3 linked regions of the Homo sapiens genome follow. The protein of the gene in region 1 purifies or fractionates together with the protein of each later gene. This does not show direct contact. Each region holds a gene or a part of one and is shown in the gene's direction. Other genes may lie near its edges. The genes, in order: PTGDR2, JKAMP and ANKRD13C.

What was found.
Region 2: the proteins of PTGDR2 (region 1) and JKAMP purify together in Homo sapiens (affinity purification with western blotting, with the first as the bait; one large-scale study listed by BioGRID). This does not show direct contact.
Region 3: the proteins of PTGDR2 (region 1) and ANKRD13C purify together in Homo sapiens (affinity purification with western blotting, with the first as the bait; one study listed by BioGRID). This does not show direct contact.

What each region holds. Positions count from the first base shown.
Region 1 is NC_000011.10:60,853,151-60,857,382, reverse strand, and holds the start of PTGDR2 (prostaglandin D2 receptor 2), read left to right. Parts: upstream 1-1,432; 5' UTR 1,433-1,514; intron 1,515-3,651; 5' UTR 3,652-3,660; coding exon 3,661-4,232.
Region 2 is NC_000014.9:59,490,911-59,494,635, forward strand, and holds part of JKAMP (JNK1/MAPK8-associated membrane protein), read left to right. Parts: intron 1-650; exon of another isoform or gene 651-1,141; intron 1,142-3,725. UniProt on the Homo sapiens protein: Regulates the duration of MAPK8 activity in response to various stress stimuli.
Region 3 is NC_000001.11:70,344,559-70,348,283, reverse strand, and holds part of ANKRD13C (ankyrin repeat domain-containing protein 13C), read left to right. Parts: intron 1-3,725. UniProt on the Homo sapiens protein: Acts as a molecular chaperone for G protein-coupled receptors, regulating their biogenesis and exit from the ER.

The sequences.
Region 1 (4,232 bases):
ACATTTTCCTATTGTTAATGATTTGGATCACCAAGGCTCTTACTGATCTGCCATATTGGGCTACAGTGAGATGTATTATCCCCATCACAAGGGCATAGCATTTTACTCATTTTCCACTCATGATGGTAGCCTCTCAGCAAGAGCGTATTATGCATTAGTCTCTGCGTTAAGACTAGGCCTAAATGGAAGATGCTTGTGCTGTCCATCTCATGGGAGGTGCCTTTGCCTCGATACAGGGATATTGAGTTCTTAAAATGTTTTAATGAGTATCCATTAGGTGCTGAGATGCTGAGGTTGAAGGGATGGTCCTGACCCCAGGAAGCTTGGTCAGCAAATGAGAGTAAGGAGTTAGGGAACAATGAAATGCAAACTTCTCTTATCCTAGGGCTTTGAGCCTGTGTGTTTTTTTGTTTGTTTGTTTTTGTTTTTTAGTTTAAATTTCCATTTTTTTTTTTTTGAGATGGAGTTTTTACTCTGTCACCCAGGTTGGAGTGCAGTGGTGTGATCTCGGCTCAATGCAACCTCCACCTCCTGGGTTTAAGCGATTCTCATGCCTCAGCCTCCCAAGTAGCTGGGGTTACAGGCATGTGCCACCACGCCTGGCTGAGTTTTGTATTTTTAGTACAGACAGGGGTTTTGCCACATTGGCCAGTCTGGTCTTGAACTCCTGACCTCAAGTGATCCATCCGCCTCGGCCTCCCAAAATTGAGCCTGTTTTAAATAAAAGCTATATGACCTTTGCCTTAGAGCCTATATTCATTTTTCCCTCAGAGGAGAAGGAAGCTGATTTTTATAAGCACTTACTGTGTGCCACGAGCTTTGTGCAATCCATCTCATTCAACCCTTACCACAGCCTGTAAGGCCGATGTTACTGCTCCCGTTCACAGATGACAACCCCAGGGCTCAGCAAACAGAAGTGACTGACCTCTTGGACTGCGTTCTTGCCACTGCCCCCACTACCCCACTGTACTTTCCTGGCCTTAGAGCCCTCGGGTCCCTCATGGACAGGCCCCCACACTGCCTGGGAAACTCAGAACAGCTGGAGGGGTTTCTTCTCTGAGGATTCTGGTGTCGGGAGATGGAAGCCCAGGAACAGTGGACAGATGGATGAGACATTCTCCTTCTCACGCACTTATCCTACACACTGGTCACTCTCAAAAGCACACCCCTAGTCACACTCGGGCTCACACTCTCTTGCACACATCGATTTTTTCACGTGCACTTGCACTGCCCTCTGGACTTCTGCAGTCTCCTTCATGAAGCGGGGATGGGTGGAGCAGGGGCTGCCGGCATTGATGGAAATTGATGATATTTGAACATCTGTGTGGCAACTCACTCTCCAGCTGTCCCCGCCTCCCCCAACCCCACCCCTAAACACACATGCACTGGGGCTGACAGCTATTTCCTCTCTCAGCCTCCCTCTCCCACCTCTGTCTGCCCGCTGCCTCTTGTCTAGCTGCTGTCAGGAGCTGACTGCCTCCAGGGCTGGAATCCTGTGCTCCCTCTGTGCCCAGGTAAGGAGGAGTGGCCCAGGGGTTGGGCAGCCTAGTGCCCTCTCTAGACCCACAGAAGAAGGCAAAGTTTTACCAGGTGAGAGGGCTGTTACCAGCTAGGATGGCAGAAGATTGAGTTTACCAAAGACTGGAGGGGACTTGGTGCTCAGAGGAGGGAAGGATTAGCTTCTCTTAGGCATTAACTAGATGTCAGATACGAGGGGAAACCACTCAACTGTCTGTCAATATTCACAAGCAGTCTGGGTGGGAAGATGACACCAGCACGCTTAGAGTAACTGGCCCAAGGTCACGCAGCCAGGAAGCTGAGGAGCTGGGATTCAAACCCAGGTCTTGGACTCCCACAGCTTGCACTCTCTGTCCCTTTTTTTTTTTTTTTTTCTTAACCTGCCAAAGCCGGACCTTAGCTGCTTGGCTCCTGAGAATCCTGGGAGGCTGGGGGCTGTCTCTATAGAGTTAGAAGGACTGATCTGGTGGTGCCCAAGGGTGTGGCAGGACTGTGCTCTCTGATCATCCCCATAGGACTTGGATCAGCAGCAGCTGGTCTGCAGGGAATGTTTCAGGGCAGACAGCGGGTGGTACTTGGCTATCTGCTGGGAGTGAAGTCCCAGCCCCACTGTTGCAGCTGAGGAACGCTGGGCAAGTTGTTGTTTCTTCTTCTGAAAAATGGGGTGTCATAGGTTCATTGCAAGAGTAACTGCTCTGCACATTCTAAAGCCTAGGAAGTATGACCATTCTCAGGAAGCACAGGCTCCTCTTCCATCTACCTGCAGGTCTCTAGCTCCAAGGGGCTCCTCCGCCAGCAGAATTCTAGTTTGATATTCCAGAACCCCACTCTACAAAGGACTGTGGTCTCTGGAAGGGAGTGGGTTTTCTCATCCTGGCCAACAGTGTTTTCCCTAGAAAGATGAGTACTGAAGACCATTGCTCCCCTCTCCCGCTTTTCTTCCTCCTCCTCCATCCTCTCTTCCTTGGAGTAGGGGTAGAGGAAAGAGCACAGGCTGAGCATGAAACTTTCTCCTCCACATGTTTGTGCTGTCTGGGTGGCTCTGGGCCAGTTATTTAACCACTTGAGGCTCAGTTTTCTCATCTGTAAAATAGGATGGAGTACTAGCACCATTTTTCTAGAGCCAGAAAGACAGCACCTATGTGAAGGACCTACCATAGTACCTGGAGTGTCATTGGTGCCCAGGACACCCTGAGTCCCTGTCCCCTGCTACTTGCCTCCTACCTCCTGCATGGAGCCTCATGGAATTTCCTCAGCCCTCACTGGTCTTGACCAGCCTCACATCAGATGGTCTTTCGGGCTTTCAATGAGGATGTAAGCATGCACGTCTTATTTGTTGGATGAGTGCATGATGGAGTAAGTGAATGAACAGGGGTGGGTTTCCTGGGGCGGAGAGAGCTGCTGTGGCTGCTCCTGAGAAGGGAGAGATCTTTTGGCCCCACTGGGCCTCCAGAGCCCCATGTGGGAGTTCCTCCTCCCCAGCTCTCCTGGCTCTTATCTTATTTCCTCTCCAACCATCAGAGGAGGGGCTGGTTCCACTGTTTATGGTCGGCACATCTAACCAGCCACCACTGAGTGCGGGGAGCTGCATGGAGGATCTGTAGAGAGGCAACATCTGGGGGCGCTGTGGATGCTGTGGGAAGGGGCAGCATCTCCATCGCCCAGGCCAGCAGAATCCTCTTGCCCTAATTGTGGGGCCTCCTTCACCCGCCAGTGCTCTGGGGATGGGAAAAAGGAGTCCTGTGTGGCCTGACCTTGTTCCTTTTTCTCTGTGTGATCTTAGACCATTTGCTCCATAATCATCACAATGACACTGATAAAGTGCTTGCTCTGTGCCAGGCCATGTTCTAAATGCTTTTATGTATTAAACTCACTTAATTCTCCCAATAACTCTATGAGCTAGGTGATGTTATGACTGACATCCAAGTTTCAGAGGCAGAAAAAGGCTCGGGAAGGTTAAATGACTTGCCCAAGCACAGCAATGCTGGGATATTATTCCCCCCACCCCCACCGCCCAATATATTCGTGGGTCACATTGGCATCTCCTGGGCAGGGTCCCACTCCGGGCCTCTCTCTTGGTTCCCCGGTGGCCTCTGCACTTCCAACTTAGGCGCCTCCTTCCCTCCACTGCAGAGCCCCACGATGTCGGCCAACGCCACACTGAAGCCACTCTGCCCCATCCTGGAGCAGATGAGCCGTCTCCAGAGCCACAGCAACACCAGCATCCGCTACATCGACCACGCGGCCGTGCTGCTGCACGGGCTGGCCTCGCTGCTGGGCCTGGTGGAGAATGGAGTCATCCTCTTCGTGGTGGGCTGCCGCATGCGCCAGACCGTGGTCACCACCTGGGTGCTGCACCTGGCGCTGTCCGACCTGTTGGCCTCTGCTTCCCTGCCCTTCTTCACCTACTTCTTGGCCGTGGGCCACTCGTGGGAGCTGGGCACCACCTTCTGCAAACTGCACTCCTCCATCTTCTTTCTCAACATGTTCGCCAGCGGCTTCCTGCTCAGCGCCATCAGCCTGGACCGCTGCCTGCAGGTGGTGCGGCCGGTGTGGGCGCAGAACCACCGCACCGTGGCCGCGGCGCACAAAGTCTGCCTGGTGCTTTGGGCACTAGCGGTGCTCAACACGGTGCCCTATTTCGTGTTCCGGGACACCATCTCGCGGCTGGACGGGCGCATTATGTGCTACTACAATGTGCTGCTCCTGAACCC
Region 2 (3,725 bases), on another chromosome or scaffold:
TTTGAGGGAGAGACTTGAAGCAGAGACTAGAGGGTGGTTTGAGGGAAGGCGAGGAGTGACTAATGCTCAGACAGGAAAGGAGGTGGGTTTAAAAAGAGGGAGTTGTACAACTGTGCTTTGCCTAGGAAATTGGTAACAAGGACCACAAGGGCCATCTCTTACAGTTTCCTGAAATTTTGCACTTACAGTCCAGATAGATGGGGGCTGGAGGTGTCTTAACAAATGTTCATAAAAACTGGGGATAACCCCTGAGCTGATCTGGAAGGATGCATGGTTTGGCAGATAGGTAAAATGTGTTTGAGGTGGAGGGTGATGCATGCCCAGATGTGTGGAGGCACAAGTGAACTTAAAGTCATTTAGCATGGCCAGGAAATAGAGAAGACGATGCTGGTGGGGGTATTTTTCCAGAAAGACAAAAAGACTCAAAATTAGTTTAATGAGAGGAGTTCTAAAATTGTATTTCATTTTGTAAAGATTATGTGTCTGGCTGTAGATAGGTTGAAAGAGAACATGACAAGAAGACCAGTTAAGAAGGTTATCAAAGTAATGGCAAGAAATAATGAAGTTGGGATTTTGCCTCTGAAAATATTAATTCTATAAGGAAGCAAAATGTCAAATTATGTAATGTGAATGTGTGTTTATGTTTTCAGTGTTTTCATCTTTGTAAAATGGCACAGGAGTTCTGTTTCCAACAATGTGAGTTAATTAGGAGCTCCAAGTGACCCACCTGCATGAAATAACTAAAGTCTGGGAAAGATAAACTATGTGAGACATTGCTGGTCCCAGCTGGAGATGGAGAGATCTCCAGGAACTCTTCTCTTTCAAAACACAAACCAGCCCACCCTGAGTTAGGCCAGAGTGACAAGGCAGGCAGTTGGGATGAGAGGGTTGTCTGAGGTCAATTGCTGGTAGCAGCAGTGTTATCTGGATACTGAATCTTGGGTAGCCTCTGCTAAGACTAGACCCTCAAGGGCCTGAAGCCTAAGGTAGTAGTGGCCATGGCTGCTGACAAAAGTAGCAGAGCCTCTTTGCTGGAAAGCTTCCCCATTCTCAATTTAACCCTGTAAGACTCTTGCTCATTAAAATCTAGTAATGGCCTCATAGTCTGTGGTTACTAAATAAAATAGCACTAGGACTTATTGGTACATGCAACAAACAATATATTTATGCTCTGAGAGGACACAGATAATGGACTTTCACCTACAGGATATGTAACTGCTACCTATAAAGAAAGTAAGGATGTAGTCACAAGCTGTCCATAACAATAAGATTATTAGGAATAAATACATGTGATGGGGAAGAAAAGGAAACTTTTAGAAATGAAAGTTTATACTTGCCAAAATAAAAAAAAAGGTAGTCAGCAGATTAAACAGTTGAAGATAGAATTAGTGAACTAGAAAAAAATGCATAGAAATAATGGAATATTGCACTGAGAAAGAAGGAGATGGAAAATCAGGTGCAAGAAGGTGAGATCCATGTTGGGTAGGTGTGGGAGTGGTCCAGGCTTAAAGTCTTACACCTCACAGAAGCCAGTCTCTCTTATAACAATTCCATGAACTTCTGGGGTCCTGCAAGTGACATGCCAATTATAAGAGTCACTGAACTCAAGAAAGCCAAACCATGGTATCCCCATCAGGCATTTATAGTTCATTTATGGTTCTCCCCAGTCGAGATATAATTTACCAGGCAAGGATCATTTGTATCATAAGCAGTGTTGCCTAGCAATATAGTTGACATTCTATCCTTATCAGGCTTCCAGAGGAAAAGAGCTAGAGAGTTACCTGAAGCCCAGATTCTCATGCACAGCATAAATGTTTTGTTAAGTCTTTGCCCAAAGTATCTAATTAGGGTCTCTGGAAAAATAGAGACTATGAAGGAGAGCTGCTATTTTTTTTTTTTTTTTTTTGAGACGAGTCTTGCTCTGTTGCCCAGGCTGGAGTGCGGTGGTGCGACCTCGGCTCACTGCAAGCTTCGCCTCCCAGGTTCACGTCATTCTCCTGCCTCAGCCTCCCGAGTAGCTGGGACTACAGGCGCCTGCCACCACGCCCGGCCAATTTTTTTGTATCTTTAGTAGAGACGGGGTTTCACTGTGTTAGCCAGGATGGTCTTGATTTCCTGACCTCGTGATCCACCCGCCCCGGCCTCCCAAAGTGCTGGGATTACAGGCGTGAGCCACCACGCCCAGCCAAGGAGAGCTGGTATTTTAAGAGATAACTGGCTTCAGGTTTTACAAAAATAATGAGAAACCGATTCACAGATCCCAGAAGGAAAACACATCCCAAGCAGAATAAACAGAAATTCACACCTGCATGCATCATAATTAAACTGCAGAGTACTGAAAACAAAAGAGAAGCCATATGGAAGAGAACCAAGGCACACCTGTTAACAGCCTTGGTTGTGCTTCCAGCTAACAGCCAGCACTTACTGCAGCCATGTGAGTTAGTCCTTTTAAATGCTGCAGCATGGTCAAGCCTCTAGACCAGTGCTTCCCAAATTGACACCATGTGGAGCAGAAAGAACTGCCCAGTTGAGCCCAGTCACATCACAAAATAGTGAGAAATGATCAGTGGTTCTTGTTTCAAGCCACTAAGTATTGAGGTAGTTTGCTATGCAATGATACATAATGGAAACAGTGTTCAAGTAGAAAACTCAAAATCACCTATAGACTAGATATTAGAAATAACAAGACAGTTTAATAAAAAGGTTGACTATAAGATAAATATATGAAACTATTTCCTATATTCCATGTACAGTACAAGTACTGTGACATAGCTCAGACCATTAAGTTACATAGGATTTATCTGAGCACTTGACAAGCCAATTTTAAAATTTATATGGAAGAGCAAAGGGCCAGGAATAGCCAAGACCACCAAAGAAGTAGAAAAAATGTACATGACATCAAGGATTATGATCATATTATTCTTCTGGCTCAGGAATAGATAAATGGACTCAAGAAACAGAATAGAGACCCAAAACACAGACAATTATATATGAAACTTTATATGAAAGAAGTGCCATGGCAAATTAGTTGGGAAGGTAGGGGTGGGAAGGAGTACCTGTTCAGTAAAATGCTGCTGCTGGGACAACTGGCAATTCAAATGGGAAAATGTAAAGTTAGATCCTACCTTACGTTAGGCACAGAAATCTCTTCTAGGTGAATTAAAGATAAATGTGAAAAGCAAAACCTTAAAATTTTTAGAAGAAAATTTGGGTGTGTGTGTGTGTGTGAGATACACACACATCTCAGGGTGTGGAAGGACTTTTTAAAACATTTAAACTGCTAAGTAGAAAAAAAAATAAAAGCCTGGTGTATTAAAATTTAGAACATGTTTATAAAAAGGCTTCACAAAGAAAGTGAAAATTGAGCCCACAAACAGGTACACATTTGCAACACATTTAACTAACCACAGAATGGATAAACAAATCACAGTATTGTCACACAGTGGAATCCTAACACAATAGCGAAAATGACTGAACCTCAGCTATAAGCAATAACATGGATGAAACTTGGAAATGTAATTTTGAGTAGAAAAAAAATCTCAGAAGACTTCCATTAGTGTGATATCATTCAAAAATAAGCAAAACTAACCAGAATAGTTGTGAAGCAGAAATACAGTTGGGATAAAAACTTTCTGGAAAAAAGTGGTAAAAGCAGTTTGGTACATGGTTGCCTCTAAGGGAGAGACAGAGGTATGGATGGGGAGGAACAAAGATGTAGTTACAAA
Region 3 (3,725 bases), on another chromosome or scaffold:
TGTGCATTTGAGGATTGAGAAGATAGGATAATCTATTTCATGGCCATACAGTATGTTTATTTTGGTTTATTCTGTATAAATCTCGTATCTTCCTTTTGATATTTTTTTCTCTACTTTTAGTCACTAAAACCTTCATGATGGGTGATACAAAAGAATAATATGTAATAGATCTCTTTTAGAAGAGGTGACTATAAAGCTAATCTCTGCATGGAAAAAAAAATTTTAGCTACTGGTGAACAATTTTAACCAGGAGAGGGTTAAAATGATGGCTTGTGTTTAAAAGAACATTAGTAGTTTTATGTTTGTTTGTTTGCTTTGTGTTTTGTAGGTTTCTTTTTAAATTTTGTTTTTGTAGGATAGACCTCAGTTTCCCTTAGGAAGAAAGTGGTGTCTAGAGGCTCAAGTTTATAACACATTAAAGTGTGTTATACCCCTTACCTGGGTGTGGGGGTGATTTGGTGGTGAAATGTTACTCCATTGATCAGGGTTGATTTAGTTGATCTTCATTATTAGATGAATGTCATCTTCCTTCTTTCTTGTCTTTCTTCCCCATGTGCATCTCCAACAGAGTAGGACTGTCCTTGGGTTAAGTGGCTGTGTTTCCTGATGGTGTCACCATTAGTACTATAGAACTTCACCCACTGCTTACAAATGTTGTGATAAGAACACATCTGCAGAGCTATGTCTTAAAAGGGAGGGAGGATCCTCTTCTCCCCTTTTCTGCACTGGGCTGCAATAGGAATAGAAATTCTTAGCTTTGGCAAAAAAGGTAGCAGAAATGGGTGATTATTGGTGATGTTGGGTCCTGGGCATCCTGAATTCTAGAGGACTCATTGGAGAATTGAGTTTTCGGTAGGATAGCTGCCCCAAGTTAATGCCATTCTTAAGTCATAGAAATCTACTTTAATTCAAGAGTACAGTGTAATTATCAGAATGCTTGGGTTCCAGAAAATGAGTGCAGTTCCTAGAGAATTGGATGGGGGCCAGGCAGACAAACAATATGGTTCTGTTCCTACACCATTTATTTTCTTGAGGGAGAGCTGGGTGATCAGTTTTAGAGCAACACTGAAGTATGTAAAATAGGGATAGGAAAAAGGGAAAAGGTCTTTCGCCTTTTCTGTATTGATCAGATCTGAGTTTGAGACCATGCTTCTCTATGAACTGCCTTTTTTTTTTTTTTTTTTTTTTTTTTGAGACGGAGCCTCGCTCTGTCACCAAGGCTGGAGTGCAGTGGCGCGATCTCGGCTCACTGCAAGCTCCGCCTCCCCGGTTCACACCATTCTCCTGCCTCAGCCTCCCGAGTAGCTGGGACTACAGGCGCCCGCCACCACGCCCGGCTAGTTTTTTGTATTTTTTAGTAGAGACGGGGTTTCACCATGTTAGCCAGGATGGTCTCGATCTCCTGACCTCGTGATCCACCCGCCTGGACCTCCCAAAATGCTGGGATTACAGGCGTGAGCCACCGCGCCCGCCCGACACAATTTGATTTTAAAAGGCTCACTCGGGCTGTTGTGTGAGGCAAGGGTCAGTATAAAAAGCTACTATAGTTGGGGGAAACTGTGAGGGTGATAAGAAGATAGAGCTGATAGAAGTTGATGCTGGATTTGATGTCAGATGATATGGTGTGTGTATTTTAGTAGTATATTAGCATTTTTGAGAGAGAATGCAGAAATTATCCCCTTTTACTGCTTGCTTGGATCAGACTTGAAGGAGTCTGTAGAACCTGGAGCTCTGTACTAGTACTTGCAATTTCCTGCTTTGTTCTATAGTTAGGGGGTGCACAAAGTCGCAACTATTTTTATAATATCTAGTCATTGCTTGCCTTTTTCACTGCAGACATTTTCATTGGTGGTTCAAAAGCACTGGTGAGTAAAATTGTTGACATCTTAGTGCAAGTCAAAGTAGCAAACTGGGCTGGTAGTCATTGTATTGTTCACTGCCATGCAAATTAATTTTTAATTTTTAAAAATTAAAACAAGGCCATTTTACTTAATGTTTTTGATGAAACTGTAAAAATTATGAATTTTATTACATCCTAATCTTGAGTACATGCTTTTTTGGTATTTGTGACATAATTGGGATTGTGCCTTTTGCTCCTCTGCTGCATACTGACTGGGTAAATAAGGGAAAGCATTGTTAAACTGAGTGGGGAAGCCAGGCACAGTGGCTCACACCTGTAATCCCAGCACTTTGGGAGGACGAGATGGGAGGATCACTTGAGGTCAGGAGTTCGAGACCACCCTGGTCAACATAGTGAGACCCTGTCTCTATTAAAAAGAAAGAAAAGAAAAATAGAAAAAAAAAGTATTAGAAAAAAGTTTGAGGGGTATTTGAGTGTAAGCTGAGCTAGCCACCTTTTTCATGGAACACCATTTTTACTTTAAAGAACAGTTTACAGACAAACTATAGTTAATCACAGTTTGAATATATGGCAAATATTTTTTGGAAAATAATGAAGTAAACCTATGACTTCAAGGAAAACAAGTGACAGTTATTTGTTGTGAATGAAAAAATTGAAGCTTTCAAATGAAAAGTAGAAATTTGAAGAACTTATCTCTACCATGGTAAGCTTGATGGGTTCCCAGTACATAAAAGACTGTTCTAGTCAGATTGGAGGTGATATTGCCAAATACGGTTTTTTTGCTATTGTACAGTGAAATATGTCAACATTTGAAGATTTCCATAACCTGGTCAACCGGTGTTTTTCAAATATCAATGCATGGTGTTACAGAATCATGCATCAGTACAAGATCCATTCAAAGCACAAGACAGACCAATATATTTCAGTGTAATACAGTACAAAAAACTTATTTATATGATTTTAGATTTCACATTGCAATCTTTTTTTTTTTTTGAGACGGAATATTGCTCTTCTTGCTCAGGCTGGAGTGCAATGGTGCGATTTCGGCTCACCGCAACCTCTGCCTCCTGGGTTCAAGCGATTCTCCTGCTTCAGCCTCCCGAGTAGCTGGGATTTCAGGCATGTACCACCACGCCCGGCTAATTTTGTATTTTTAGTAGAGACGGGGTTTCTCCATATTGGTCAGGCTGGTCTCAAACTCCCTACCTCAGGTGATCTGCTTGCCTCGTCCTCCCAAAGTATTGGGATTACAGGAGTGAGCCACCGCGCCCAGCTGTGCAACCAACTTTTAAGAAGTGAATTTTGGTGTGTAGCAAAGAAAAATATCAGAAAAGGTTATTAAAATACTCCCACTCTTATCAACTGTGAATTTGTGCAAAGCATATATAAAAACCTAGCTGCTGTCTTCTGTTAAGCCAGACATTAAAGAAACATAATTTATTTTTATTTTTAATTAAATAATTTAAATAGACTGCTCATGTCACTTATTTGTTTTGGAAAATGTAGTTAATTTTTTCATAAGAAATTTTATATTAACACGTAGTGAGTATTATAGTTCTAAAATTAATACATTTAAAATTTTAAAAATCTTAATTTCTAATATGATAAATATCAATAGATATATCTATACAAAAGGTTTTGTGATCCTTAATAATTTTTAGAAGTATAAAAGGAGTCCTGAGATTCAAAAGCTTGAAAACTGTTAATACAGTAAAAAGAATATAAATTTTTGTGTCATGAACTGTCCCAGTTTCTAGGTATGTAATTTTGGAAAATAACTATTATTAGGTCTATTTTTCTTCTTGAGAAATAGGAATAATATTTGTTTCATAGGATTATTGAGCAAATTAAATGAATAAGGTAT